3 separate regions of the Homo sapiens genome follow, and all the other regions are linked to region 2. Evidence: fine-mapped expression QTL. A gene starts in region 2. Each other region holds a variant in brackets. All regions are shown on one strand. Distances are between the middles of the regions. Region 1 overlaps MTMR7 (myotubularin related protein 7). Region 2 holds the start of SLC7A2 (solute carrier family 7 member 2). Region 3 overlaps MTMR7 (myotubularin related protein 7).

What was found. PIP is the estimated chance that this variant, and not a neighbour inherited with it, causes the effect.
Region 1: its variant is the best candidate, but not a certain one, in a credible set for the expression of SLC7A2 in unexposed skin (GTEx, PIP 0.79).
Region 3: its variant is the best candidate, but not a certain one, in a credible set for the expression of SLC7A2 in thyroid (GTEx, PIP 0.55).

Annotation. Positions count from the first base shown.
Region 1 is chr8:17,383,002-17,387,243 of GRCh38, forward strand. The region is part of intron 1 of MTMR7 (myotubularin related protein 7); the gene reads right to left. Among named protein-coding and RNA genes, the nearest start is that of MTMR7, 28 kb to the right of the region's middle. The variant C/T (reference allele first, on the strand shown) is at 1,743.
Region 2 is chr8:17,495,473-17,499,714 of GRCh38, forward strand. It overlaps SLC7A2 (solute carrier family 7 member 2), which reads left to right and starts at 1,616. Exons shown (of 13, transcript NM_001370338.1): 1 at 1,616-1,765.
Region 3 is chr8:17,388,772-17,393,013 of GRCh38, forward strand. All of the region lies in intron 1 of MTMR7 (myotubularin related protein 7), which reads right to left. Among named protein-coding and RNA genes, the nearest start is that of MTMR7, 22 kb to the right of the region's middle. The variant A/G (reference allele first, on the strand shown) is at 1,611.

The sequences.
Region 1 (4,242 bases), 110 kb before region 2:
AGCGGCTGGTGTTCCTCCGAGATATGGGGGGGCCGGGATCCCAGGGCCTGTTGGCAGCTCAGATAAGACACATCCACCACCTGGGGGGTGTGGAAGGTCCCAGGGAAGGGAGCCGCTCTTAGATACCAAGGTTGGGAGGATGGTTCTGGGCATCAGTTTTACCTTTAAACAGTGCCCACCCTCTCAGTCCCTACTTAACTAAGTGCTGATGCCAAATCCAGGCAATCCAGGATGAATTTTTCAGAAAAGCTTATGGCAAAGGAGGCAGCGTAACTGTGGTGCGTTCCTTTTAACCCTTCCCTCAAGCAGAGGGAGCAAGAGGAGGAAGGGTAATAACAACAACGAAAATACTTTTACCACTGACCACACAACTACTGCGCATCAGATACTGTGCTAGGTATTATCCACATGCTACTTCTAACCTTAGCTGAGACAAAGACATGAAGAGCATGAAAAATCAATCAACTGCCCAAGCCTCGCATCTAGAAAGTGGCAGAGCCAGATTTCAAACCAGAAGTGTCCACTTCCCTGGATCTCTCCCATACCTGACCACTTCAGTCTGGGTCTAATATTGCAAATGAAGGAAAAACATCCTGGCTCAACAGTCTCTCCTCCATCGTCCCTGAGATTTCAGTTAGAGAGGAATATGTTTAACAAGTTAAATGCTCTAGCTACAGCTAAAAGATTTGGTATCTGGTACAGACCAGCTTGGCTGGCCATGTGACCTCCCTGCTTGCTCATTTCTCTTGTCTGGAGGGGCAAATCCCCGAAAGACTCGGTTCTCCCGGTGGTCGAGGGATTCTCTGGGCGGAGCTCTGAAGTGTGCACCAGCATGTTTCAAATCGAAAGGTTCAAAGGCCTCCTGCAGCTTTGGAGGAACCATGCAGGAACCAAGCCCCACTTCTAACCAGCAATGCAGTAATTATAGAAACATCTACCATATAGAAATTCTCAAGTCATTTTTATTTATGACAGGTGTCACTGTCTGTATAATGGTTGCTAAAAAAAGATGTTTCAAGTTGGAGTTCAGAGTTCCTGGACAAATGATCCCATCTGTAACTAACTGCATGTGTGAGAGAGGGGAAAAAAGCATACATCTCACTAGTTATTAAAAAATAATTGTTATTGGCTGGGCATAGTGGCTCATACCCATAATCCCAGAACTTTAGGAGGCTGAGGCAGGAAGATCACTTGAGGCCGACAGTTCGAGACCAGCCTGGGCAACAAGATGAGATCCCCATCTCTACACAAAATAAAATAATATCTAGGCATAGTGGCAGGCACCTGTAGGCCCAGCTACTTAGGAGGCTGAAGTGGGCAGATGGTTTGAGCCCAGGAGTTTGAGGTTATAGTCAGACATGATCGTGCCACTGCCTTCCAGCCTGGATGACAGAGTGAGACCCTAACTCTAAAAAATAAATAAATAAATAATTATTAACAAACATATCCATAACACAGACTTCAGAGTTTTACTTCTTGCTCCCACCTCATGTCCACAACTTCATTTCTCCTGTGTGAAACTCACAGAAACAATAGAGTATGCAAAAAATATAAACTACCCAATTATAGCTGGCAAAGTACTCTGACATACAAGAAGAAAAACTGAAGCTATAGCAAATTCTCCAAACAATGTAGAATTGCCATGATCTCTTATAATTACAGAAAAAGGGCATTTGGTTTTTCCAATTTAAAAAGAAAGCACTTTTTTCCTATTTACATAAAGTTACTGAAACAAAAGGTGG[C/T]AACCATGAAGCTTCAGGAGTTTTTAAATTCAGCCTTTTGACAGAGAAATAAAGAACGTCAACTGTTTTTCCAAAAGGAGTATTTAATCTTTCTACAGCTAAAAAACCATTGAAAGTCTTTTCCCAGGACTATTTTATTCAAACATCAGAGATTAGAGAAGAATTGAGCATAATCCAAGAAAATATATGACACATAACCAGAAGTAACAGAGACTCTACCTTTCACGAAATCCCTTAGATACCTCTGGTATAATGAAGAAAAAATGCTGGTGGGATGCACACACAGGGATATATCTGGGAGGCATGCAAAGAATCCTATTCTCAAGCTGCCTAAAACAATTAATTCTTCAAAAACTGCATTCTGCTGTGAAACTAAGTTATTTCAAAAACATAGTTAATATAGTTGATATCGTTTGGATCTGTGTCCCCATCCAAATTTCACGTCAAATTGTAACCCCCAGTGTTGGAGGTGGGGCCTGGTGGGAGGTGATTTGATCATGGGGCAGTTTCTCCTGAATGGCTCGGCACCATCCCTCTTGGTACTTGATATGGTTTGGCTGTGTCCCCACGCAAATCTCATCTTCAATTGTAGCTCTCCCAATCCCCGCATGCCGTGGGAGGGACCTGGTGGGAGGTAACTGAATCATGGGGCTGGGTCATTCCTGGACTGTTCTCGTGATAGTGAATACGCCTCATGACATCTGATGGTTTTATAAAGGGAGCTTCCCTGCATAAGCCTTCTCTCTTGCCCACCACCACGTAAGAAGTCTCTTTGCTCTGCCTTCGTCTTCCGCCACGATTGTGAGGCCTTCCCAGCCATGTAGAACTGTGAGTCCATTAAGCCTCTTCCCTTTATAAATTACCCAATCGCGGGTATGTCTTAATTAGCAGCATGAGAACACACTAATATAGTACTGTCCTCACGATGGTGAGTTCATTCTCAGGAGATGTGGTTGTTTAAAAGGGTACAGCACCTACCCTGTCTCTGTCTTGCTCCTGCTCCTACCATGTAAGAAGTATCTGCTCCCTCTTAACCTTCCACCATGATTGTGTTTCCTGTGGCCTCCCGGCAGCAGATGCCACCATGCCTCCAGTACAAACTTTGGAACCATGAGCCAATTAAACCTCTTTTCTTCATAAATTACCCGGTCTCAGATATTTATTTATACCAATGTGAGAATGGCCTAATAGTCAATACAATACAAAGCAAGCTACTTGTGAAAGAACCTTGTGAAAATTAGACAGCTGCTGCCCATCAATTTAAGCCCTTTTAATTTAATTAATTAAATCTGCTAAATTGTGGAGTGCCTGCTCTGTGCCAGGCACCCAGACTATTTATCAGACTCTCCTGGCCAGGAGCAGTGGCTCACACTTGTAATCCCAGCACTTTGGGAGCCTGAGGCAGGAGGACTGCTTGAGCCCAGGAGTTAGAGACCAGTCCAGATCATGCAGTGAGACCCTGTCTCTACCAAAAAAATTTAAAAATTAGCCAAGCATGGTGGCACATGCCTATAGTCCCAGCTAATCAGAGGGCTAAAGAGGGCAGATCACTTGAGCCAGGGAGGTCAAGGCTGCAGTGGGCCGTGATCATGCCACTGCATTGCAGGCTGGGCAGCAGAGTGAGACCTTGTCTCAAAAACAAAACAAAAAGTTCCTAACTGGTAATACTGCCCACAGATGATCTGATTCCACCTCTATCTCCTAGGACTCTTATAGGAGCAAGAGACAGAAATCTCAACCTCATATGGCTTGAGCCAAAAGGGCTTTTATTGGATCATACGTCTACAAAGGTCAGTGATAGGGCTGGCTTCAGAAGGGGAGATGGGCTGAAAACACTCAGCTCCTCACCCTCAAACTCTTGGCTGGGCCCTCATTGCTGGCTCTCAGCAGGCTCTGCTCATGATGGCTCCAGTTGCCCCTGTCCCATCTCCTGCCACATCCATGGCCATGAAGAAAAGCGCCAGCTGCCCTTCTTGGAGCCCAAGCCAAGTATCACTGCATCTCACTTGGTCACACGCTTACCCCTAAACCATTCAGTGTGGTCATGAAATGACATGATTTGGGTAGCTGGATTGGCAGTACGCCACACACCAAAAAAACATACAAACTGAGCATAGAGCAGGCATGGCTCCTCAGAGGGAGCCTGGGAGAGTGGATGATGGGTGACCAAAGCCCAGCACATCCTGCCACACAGTCTAGTCCCCAGGATGGCACTCAAACAGTAGTCACTCTAGATACACCCTGATCATGTCACTCTCTGTTCAGAGCTACAGTATCTCCCCACTGCTGCTAACCGGGCCTTCCACAACCTAGCCCCACCTTACCGGCTAAACAGGTTCCTCCTTTCATTCCCAAAGCAGTCACCAGTCTCATATGATAGATATCACTGATCATTCTTCCCAGGTATTCTGATGTACCAGCATCTATGCATGTGAAGATATCCCAGGTATTCCGATATCCCAGATATCCCAGGTATTCTGATGTACCAGCATCTGTTTCT
Region 2 (4,242 bases):
TCTATTACTTAAGACATTTGGTCTATCAGATAATATCTTCGTAATCATAGTGCTGTTTAAACTTTCAGTTTTTTTGTTCGTTTGCTTTTGTTTTTGAGACGGAATCTCACTCTGTCGCCCAGGCTGGACTGTAGTGGCACTATCTCGGCTCACTGCAACCTCCGCCTCCTGGGCTCAAGCGATTCTCCTGCCTCAACCTCCCGAGTAGCTGGGGTTACAGGCGCCCGCCGCCGCGCCCGGCTAATTTTTGTATTTTTAGTAGAGACGGAGTTTCACCCTGTTGGCCAGACTGGTCTCGAACTCCTGACCTCAGGTGATCGGCGCGCCTCGGCGTCCCAAAGTGCTGGGATTACAGGCGTGAGCCACCACCCCCAGCCTACACTTTCACTTTTTGATGAAATCCATGGATGGCTTCCTGAGATACATTGAGATTTTGTGTGTGTGCTATCTTCTGGAATGAAGCCCCACACCGTTTATTAGATGATCTTGGGGATATATGTCTTGAAGGGAAGAATGATTTAGAATATCACATTAAAATTGTATATGTACTGTGAGGCAGCAATACAAATCTGGCACTTTGCCAAAGTTATTACTAGTAGGTGGGTTAAAGGGACGTTTACTCCAATACTATGCAAAGTAAAGTGGACCTTTCTGTCAAACAAAAATAGTAATAGGCCGGGCATGGTGGCTCAAGCCTGTAATTCTCAGCCTGGTGGCTCAAGCCTGTAGTTGTCAGCACTTTGGGAGGCTGAGGCGGGAGGATAGCTTGAGCCCAGGAGGTCGAGGCTGCAGTGAGCCACGATTGTGTCACTGCCCTCCAGCCTGGGCGACAGAGTGAGACCCTGTCTCTAAAGACAAACCACACACACATATACACACACACACTGACACACACTTATTGTTCAATTCAGTGCGTGTTTTGCTTCGTTTTGGATGAAAATTAACAGGCTTTCACATTGTGACTTAATCTTATCAGAGACTCCTAAAGTAAACAATAGCGCAGTAGGAGAAACCCTGATTGTGTAACTTCTGCTCTTGCTCCCCTGGAAATAATGTCATTTCCTATAAACCCACCCCCAAACAATCGTGACTACGTATTCATACCACTGGAGTCTTCCAAAATAGCAACTGCACATTATTTATCAACGTTTAGTTTGCATTTGACAAAGCACATCCACCTGGGCTTCCATTTATCATTGCTATTATTATATTTTATTATTATTTTCTTATTTCCAAAATCTTTGTAGAATGGAAAGTAAACGGGGGGACCAAAACCCCACTTAGAACTCTGCTTAGAAGATTCGGAAATGCCCTTGAGGTTTGGTCCTCCCAGGAGAGCACGAAGTTTATCCTCGCGCGCAGCCTCTCTTCCCCGGCCCGCGCCCACCGGCCTAGCCCGGGGCTAGCGCCCGCCCACGTGTGCTCGGCTCCAGGCAAACCCCGCTGAGCAGCGGCCGCACACCGCCCACCCCGGGGATTGGTCAGCGCGGCCGGGGCCCGGCGGGAGGCGGGCTCGGGGTCGCGTTCCGGGAGCGCGGAGGAGGCGGTGCCGCCCGGCCCCGCGCCCCGCCCCCGCCCCGGGTGGCTACACAGAGGGGCGCCCACGTGCCCAGCCCTCCTTCTGCAGCGCGGCCGGCGGGCGCTCCTCTTCGCGGGACCAGCGAGGCGGCGGCCGCTGCTCCAGCGTCCCCCAGCCGCGGGCCCCCGACGCGCTGCAGCCGGCAGCCCACCGCCGCCTTCTTGGCGCGACCCCAACCCAGCCCCAGTAAGTTGCTAGGTCTCCAGCCCCGCCGAGAGGCCGCGGGCGAGGGGCAGCCCGGACGCTGGGGCCGGCGGGGAAGGAGCGGGGCGAGGGCGCCCTGGGGCCGGCGGGGAACTAGAGGGTCGAGGGCTCCCGGGGACGAGTCCAGCTGCGCGCAGCTGCCCTGAGGCCGCGCTCCAGCGAGTCTTCGTCAGGGAGTCGGGGCCGTGGGCTGGGGCTGAAGCCGTGGACCTTCGTCCTCGGGGCTGCGCCCCGGAATGCGCCTCGCCTCGTCCGGTCCCTGTGCAGCCGGCTCTGCCCGGGGACTTCGGGGACCGCTGGAACTGGGAGAGGGGCTGGCACGGCGACTTCGCGGGGACCCTTCAGTCACTATTTCCAGAGGAGCTCGGCGCACCCCTCTCCGGGTGGGCAGGCTGAACCTCCTGGCCCTGCACGCTGCCGGGGTCCCCGAAGCCGCCTTCGCTCCTTTTCGGTTCTTGGCTTAAATTAGAAAGCCGGCTTGGAGCGCTGGAAGCCCCTTCACATTCTGCAGGGGACCTGGTAAAATAGCCCGTCTTGGTGTTTGTATTGGGTATTTTAAAGTAACTGGGTGCCTTTTAAAATCCGTTTGAGATGGGCTGTATTTTATAAGCCCGTTTCATGAAACGCTGTTCTTGAGGCTTAGAGAATCTCCCAACCCATCACCCCAGAGTACCTGTCCGTTCAGAAAGTACCTTTTCATCCTCTTTTGACGCTTACATCCAGTCTATGGAGTAAGGTATTGAGAGATTGTCATCTTCAACTCGTCGAAAAGAAATATGCTCAGCAAAAGCCACAATCATATGTGGCTTTTGAAGTGGATATAGTGCCTGGATTTCAAGAGAAAAAGTACTCAGCCTCTTCAGAGTTGTAAATATTTGTGCAAAACTGGCTAAAGCCTTTAGGTGACTAATTTTGGACCAGTAATAAGATTTATCTAGACGTTTGTGCAGAAACACTAATCCTTTTAATGAGAGGATATCGTCAGATCTTATTCAAATAAGAGCTCTCTGAATCCCATCCAGGGCCGCCTGGGTTATAAAATTAGAATGTATGTGGCCTTGACTTGATACTTTTTCATTCTTGCCTGAGCTAGTCTTTAAAAGTTAATAATTATCTCCTCCGGAAGGTGAAACATTCTGTGTTTGTAATCTTTCTCTAGGAGATGTATAAGATGTGAATATTCTGTATTATGTACCTTGTTAGGATTGCTTTGTAATTAGTAAATCCTTTTTTATTTTAATTGCACTGAAGCGTGACATGAAATGATCTCTCAGTGCAGAACACAGGACTTCTTCCCTCTCCTTTTCCTACAAAGTTGCTAGTTGCCTGCTCTGGGAGGCCACTTTATTGTGATTTTTCAAGTTTCTTCCCTCGGCCCACACTTTGTTTACATTCTGTGCCTTCATCTGGGAATGGTCATTTACCTTAAGGCATTTTAATCTTTTAGGGTGTGCCATGGCCTTGGAGACCAGAGTAAAGCGCTGTGGTATCTGCGGGGATCAGTTTGCAGAATCCTTGGCCTCCTAAGCAGTGGGCATAGCTCTTTTCATTCCAGAATCTCTGATCATTCCAGAGTCTCTCCTGTCACTGGGCTTAGGAGCCTGGGAAGGCGAATAGAAGCTAGCTGGGGAGACAGGGGAGCTGTGGCAGTTTAAAAAGCCTGATCTTGCGCTGGAGTTTTTCATCTTGCATTCTCATGTATCTTTGCCTTTTGAACACATGTGCCTGAAGAATTTTAAAGTTCACGTTTCTTGCTTTGCACTGCAAGCACACTCACCTTTGCAGAGTGGAAGTGCCTTGTCCCCATTCTAGGTGGTCTACCTTCTGTTCTCTTTTCAGACCTCCTGGCTTAAGCCCTTGTTTCTCCTGGCTGTTATGGCCAGACCCGGAGTCCCCGTTGTGCCCATTTCTTCTCTTTTCAGTCCTTCCTTTTCAAATGTTTTTTCCCAGAAGTCCTCTGGCAACTTCTCTATTTCACCTAGCCTCTGTCTTCTCTTGTTTTATTTTTCCCTCTCTCCCTCCCTCTCTATCCCTCTTTCCCCCTCTTTCCCTCCTTCTCCCTCCTTTCTCTCTTCCTCTCTCTCTGTCTCTCTCTCTCTCTCCCCCTCTCTCCCTCATTTCTCTCTCCCTCTCTCTGTCCCTCTTCCCTCCATTCTCTCTCCCCCCTTCTCTCTCTGTGTGTTCAGAGCCATCTGCTGGTTTTACTTTGGTGCCCTTTGGTGGACAACTTTCAGAACAGAATCTTGGGAGCACCTTCATGTTGCTGTTTGCTTTATTTCCCCCAAACATGTAGATATGAACACACTGATTTTAAAGACTCTTATAGACTACCTACTAGATGCCAAACATTTAGAACAAAAGCAAAAGCTTTCAGTGGAATATATTTCTAAATACTCACATATTTAGTTTTGGGTGCATCATTTGAATGCTTTGTCATCCAAATGAATCCTGAAAAACTT
Region 3 (4,242 bases), 110 kb before region 2:
CCCCTGGCAAGTACCAGTGCCAGAGGACAAAGGGGTACACTCTGTCCACCCAGGCCAAGGCCAGGTTCCAGCTCATTTACACATTCCCATGCCTCACTCCTCGGCTTCGAAGACCCCAAGGACAGACTGCATAATTGGCACCATATTTTTCTCTTTCTCCTCTTACAGTCCGGCCCTAAAGTGTCCATCATTCCCACTCTGGGAAATGAGTATAAAGCAGAATGCCTTGCAGACCCAATGATGTGGAGGCCTCTTCTGAGGCCCAATAAGCAAAGCTGCATGATTGCCTGCCACAGTGCACTCTGAGGTCACCAAGAACAGTAAGAAAAGGACACTGCCACTCACCAAGTGCAACATACTCACCTCCAGCCTGACACCCAAGATCCACCTCCTTAATAACACCTTTCCTCAACTACCCCAGTCCACTGGGATCATTCACTGTCCTCTGAATTGCTGTGACCTCTCTGATCACTACTTGGTTTCTACTTATCCTACACTACTTCATTACACGCTATCTTTACTGTACACTCTAACCATTACCACAATCATATTCTCATGGGAACCCAAGTTATTTTATTCCTAATATTCCCTGCAGCACAATGAACAATGCTAGGCAAACACTCACACTAGAACTGTGGGAAGAAAGGAAAAGAGACACACGGTCCTTGGCTTACTGGCTTCCTGAAACAACAATGATCACACTTCAGAACATCACAGCAACCCTCGGTGGCAGGATCCTTGAAGATTGGCACTAATGTTTTTGCCTATCTTTGTAGCCTGATGCCAAGCACAGATGCTAAGTATTTGTTCAATGAATGAAAATTAACAGTACTATGGTAAAAATAAATTATGTGATGGCTTATAGGTAGAATTAAGTATGATTAACCCAGAATGCTTTATTATTGAATTTGACTTTTCAGACAGGAAGTTAGGAAAGATTCAGCTGTGGAAGATGTTGCACATACAGGAAACAGAGCAGAGACGGGGAAAAAATAAAACAAAACTTCATCTGCAAATGTGAAAAGTAGGGCCATATAACTAAAATGGAGAATACTGGAGGAGAAAAAAAAACATGTTTGTTGAAAGATATTGAAAGATACTGAAGCTTCGACACCAAGTCACATTAAACCGTTTCCTTTATCCATTCATACAACAAATATTTATTGTGCACCTTTACTCTGTACCAGACATAGAGTGTTCTGAGTGCTGGGGGCACATGAATTGGGAAGATAAAGTCACTGCTCACATGGAGTTTGTACCTTCTGCTTGAAGGTGGGAAAGCATGGAAACAGGGAATATGTTAAAAAAAAAAAAAAAGAAATCCCTCATGTATTAGCCTGTTCTTATACTGCCATAAAGAAATAACTGACACTGGGTAATTTATAAAGAGAAGAGGTTTAATCGGCTCGTGGTTCTGCAGGCTGTACAGGAAGCAGAGCGGCTTTTGCTTCTGGGGAGGCCTCAGGAAGCTTCCAATCATGGTGTAAGGCAAAGGGGGAGTGAAGCTTCTCACATGGTGGGAGCAGGAACAAGAAAGAGTGAGGGAGGAGGTGCCACACTCTTTTAGACAACCAGATCTCAAAAGAACTCACTATCACAAGAGCAGCACC[A/G]AGGCGATGGTGCTAAACCATTCATATGAAATCCACCCCCATCATGCAACCATCTCCCACCAGGCCCAACCGCTAACATTGGGGATTACAATTTGGCATAAGATATGGTGGAACTGTATCACCACGTATGTGTGCCAGAAGATTCCTAGAGAGGAAATTAAAGCAGGATAAGCAGTTGAGTGAGGAGGGCCAGCAGGATACTGTATTAGTCCCTTCTCATACTGCTATAAAGATAGTACCCAAGACTGGGTAATTTATAAAGGAAAGAGGTTTAATTGACTCACAGTTCTGCATGGCTGGGGAGGCCTCAGGAAACTTACAATCATGGCAGACGAGGAAGCAAACACATCGTTCTTCACAAGGGAGCAGGAGAGAGAAGTACAGAATGAAAGGGGAAGAGCCCCTTATGAAATCATCAGCTCTCATGAGAACTCACTACCGCTTACCAGAGTAGTAAGGGGAAACCACCCCTGTGATCCAGTCACCTCCCGTGAGGTCCCTCCCCCAACACGTGGGGATTACAATTCAGATTACAATCCAAGATGGGATTTGGGTGGGGGCACAGAGCCAGACCATATCAGGTGCCCAGGGAAGTCTTCTCTAATAACATAATTAGATATTTCAGTAGAGAACCAGAATGAGTGAGAAAGCCAGCCATGGGGGTATCTGGGGAGAGCATTCCAGGCAGAGGGAACAACAAATGACAAGACCCTGGGCAGGAACAGGTAGATGTGGTCAAGGGTCTACGAGGACGTGAGGACTTCTGGATCAGCATCTGTGAGGGGAAACAAGTAGGAGATGAGGTGCCCAGTAGATGGACAAACCTTGTAGGGCCTGCCGGGACAACGTTATGACTTTGACTTTCACTCTGAGTAGGGTAGGAAGCAACTGGAAGGTTTACAGGGGGAGGGTGGCAGGATCTGGGAAAAAATCTTTTAAAAATGGGAGATTTTCCAAAATCTTAGCTTACAGTGATGACATATATATTGTTTTAAAGAACTGCAATATTATTTTTTTACTAAAGAATTTTTACAAATTCTTTACTACACGGTAAGTTCCATGAAACTAGGGCCACTGTCTGTCTTATTTACCACTGGATCTCCAGGGCCTAAAACTGGCATAGAGAAAGCACTCAAGGAATACTTCCAGAATGTACAAGTGAAAGGATATATGCATCAATAGGGTCTTTAAATGTATCCGTTTAGCTTAAAAGGCAGAATCCCTTCCTTAAACTACCACTACTCAAACTGGGTGAACAGTTCACCGCAACTTGCACAGATCAACTGTACCTTGTTCTAAGTAATGTGTGCTTTGCTACAGGCCCTAAGGAGTAAAATTTACTTTCACAGCTTGGCAATAAATTTATTTCTCCGGGAATCTATGATAAGCAGTGTTTTAATAAATGAAAAAGAGGAGAAAAGTAAACATACAATTTTTATAAAGTTGTCATAGCCTGCCACAAAACATTAAGTGGGGGTTATTTTTAAACCATTTTAAATGGTTGTGGGAGGAAGGGTTGGGTTTATGTCCTGGGAAGTACTTTTACTCCCAGAGGCTTCAACTAGCTGTCCACCAGGGGAAAGGGCACTAGGAAAAATAGTTTAGACTTTTCCTGGCCTAAGAAATATGGTACAAAATGAGCTTCTTGGACTCCCTCTGAGTGCAGTATGAGAATATAAAACTGAACCATCACACGGACAAAGTCACGGAATCTTGGGTGTCTGGTCAAGAGGTTTAATTTCAAGCGTACTTCACAGCTTGTCCTGTTCAGAATGGGAAAAAAAGCAATAAAAATAAGCTTTAAATAAGGATGAGAAAATATATGTACATCTGTGAAAACAAGCATTCCAAATGCTGTTTTTCCTCCAGATGTAAGACAGAAGTGATAACCAAACCTAATCAGTTAATAATGTGAGTTCAATAGGGAAATGTCAAAATTTACTAATAAATAAATAAATAATGGCTCAAGTAGACTTACATAGGAGGTTACAGTTTCACGTCTTTATCATTCCTCACAAGCATATAAATGTTTCAAGGTGTACAGTGCCTTAAAATTGCATCCCTTTTTAAAGCTTTCATGGCAGCACAAATGTAACCCTCTTACTTTCCTCCACTAAAAAGCCAAAGTGTGTTTCCCACTTTCTTCTCCATACTTTCATTCCAAAAAGACTCTCTTTCAGGAATCTAGGGCGATGTCACTGAGGCTTTGCCTCATAGGCCACTGCAGAGGCTTCCTGAGCGAAACTTGACACCTTTCCTAAAATCCATGTGTTTGACGAGATCAATGTTTTTATTAAAGAACAATATGCTCCAAAGTCTGGGTGTGAACTAGAGTTGGGTTACAGGGAGGCATTCTTTGCAGAGTTCCTCCAGAGGAAAAAATATTGAAACTCATTGTGCAGCAGGGAGGTGAATGAGTAGGTCAAATGAAATGTTTGGATTTAGAAAATTCTTTTTATTCTCAAATTTCATGGAAGTTCTTTCAGCATACAAACTTGTGGCCACATCCTTTTGCAATGAGGATGATTATAAAAATAACTTGAAAACAGCTAAAATGTACTATGTGCCATGTTATTTAGTGCTTTAAGTGTATTCTGTTTAGTCTCTAACAAGCTATACGTGAGAAAACCAA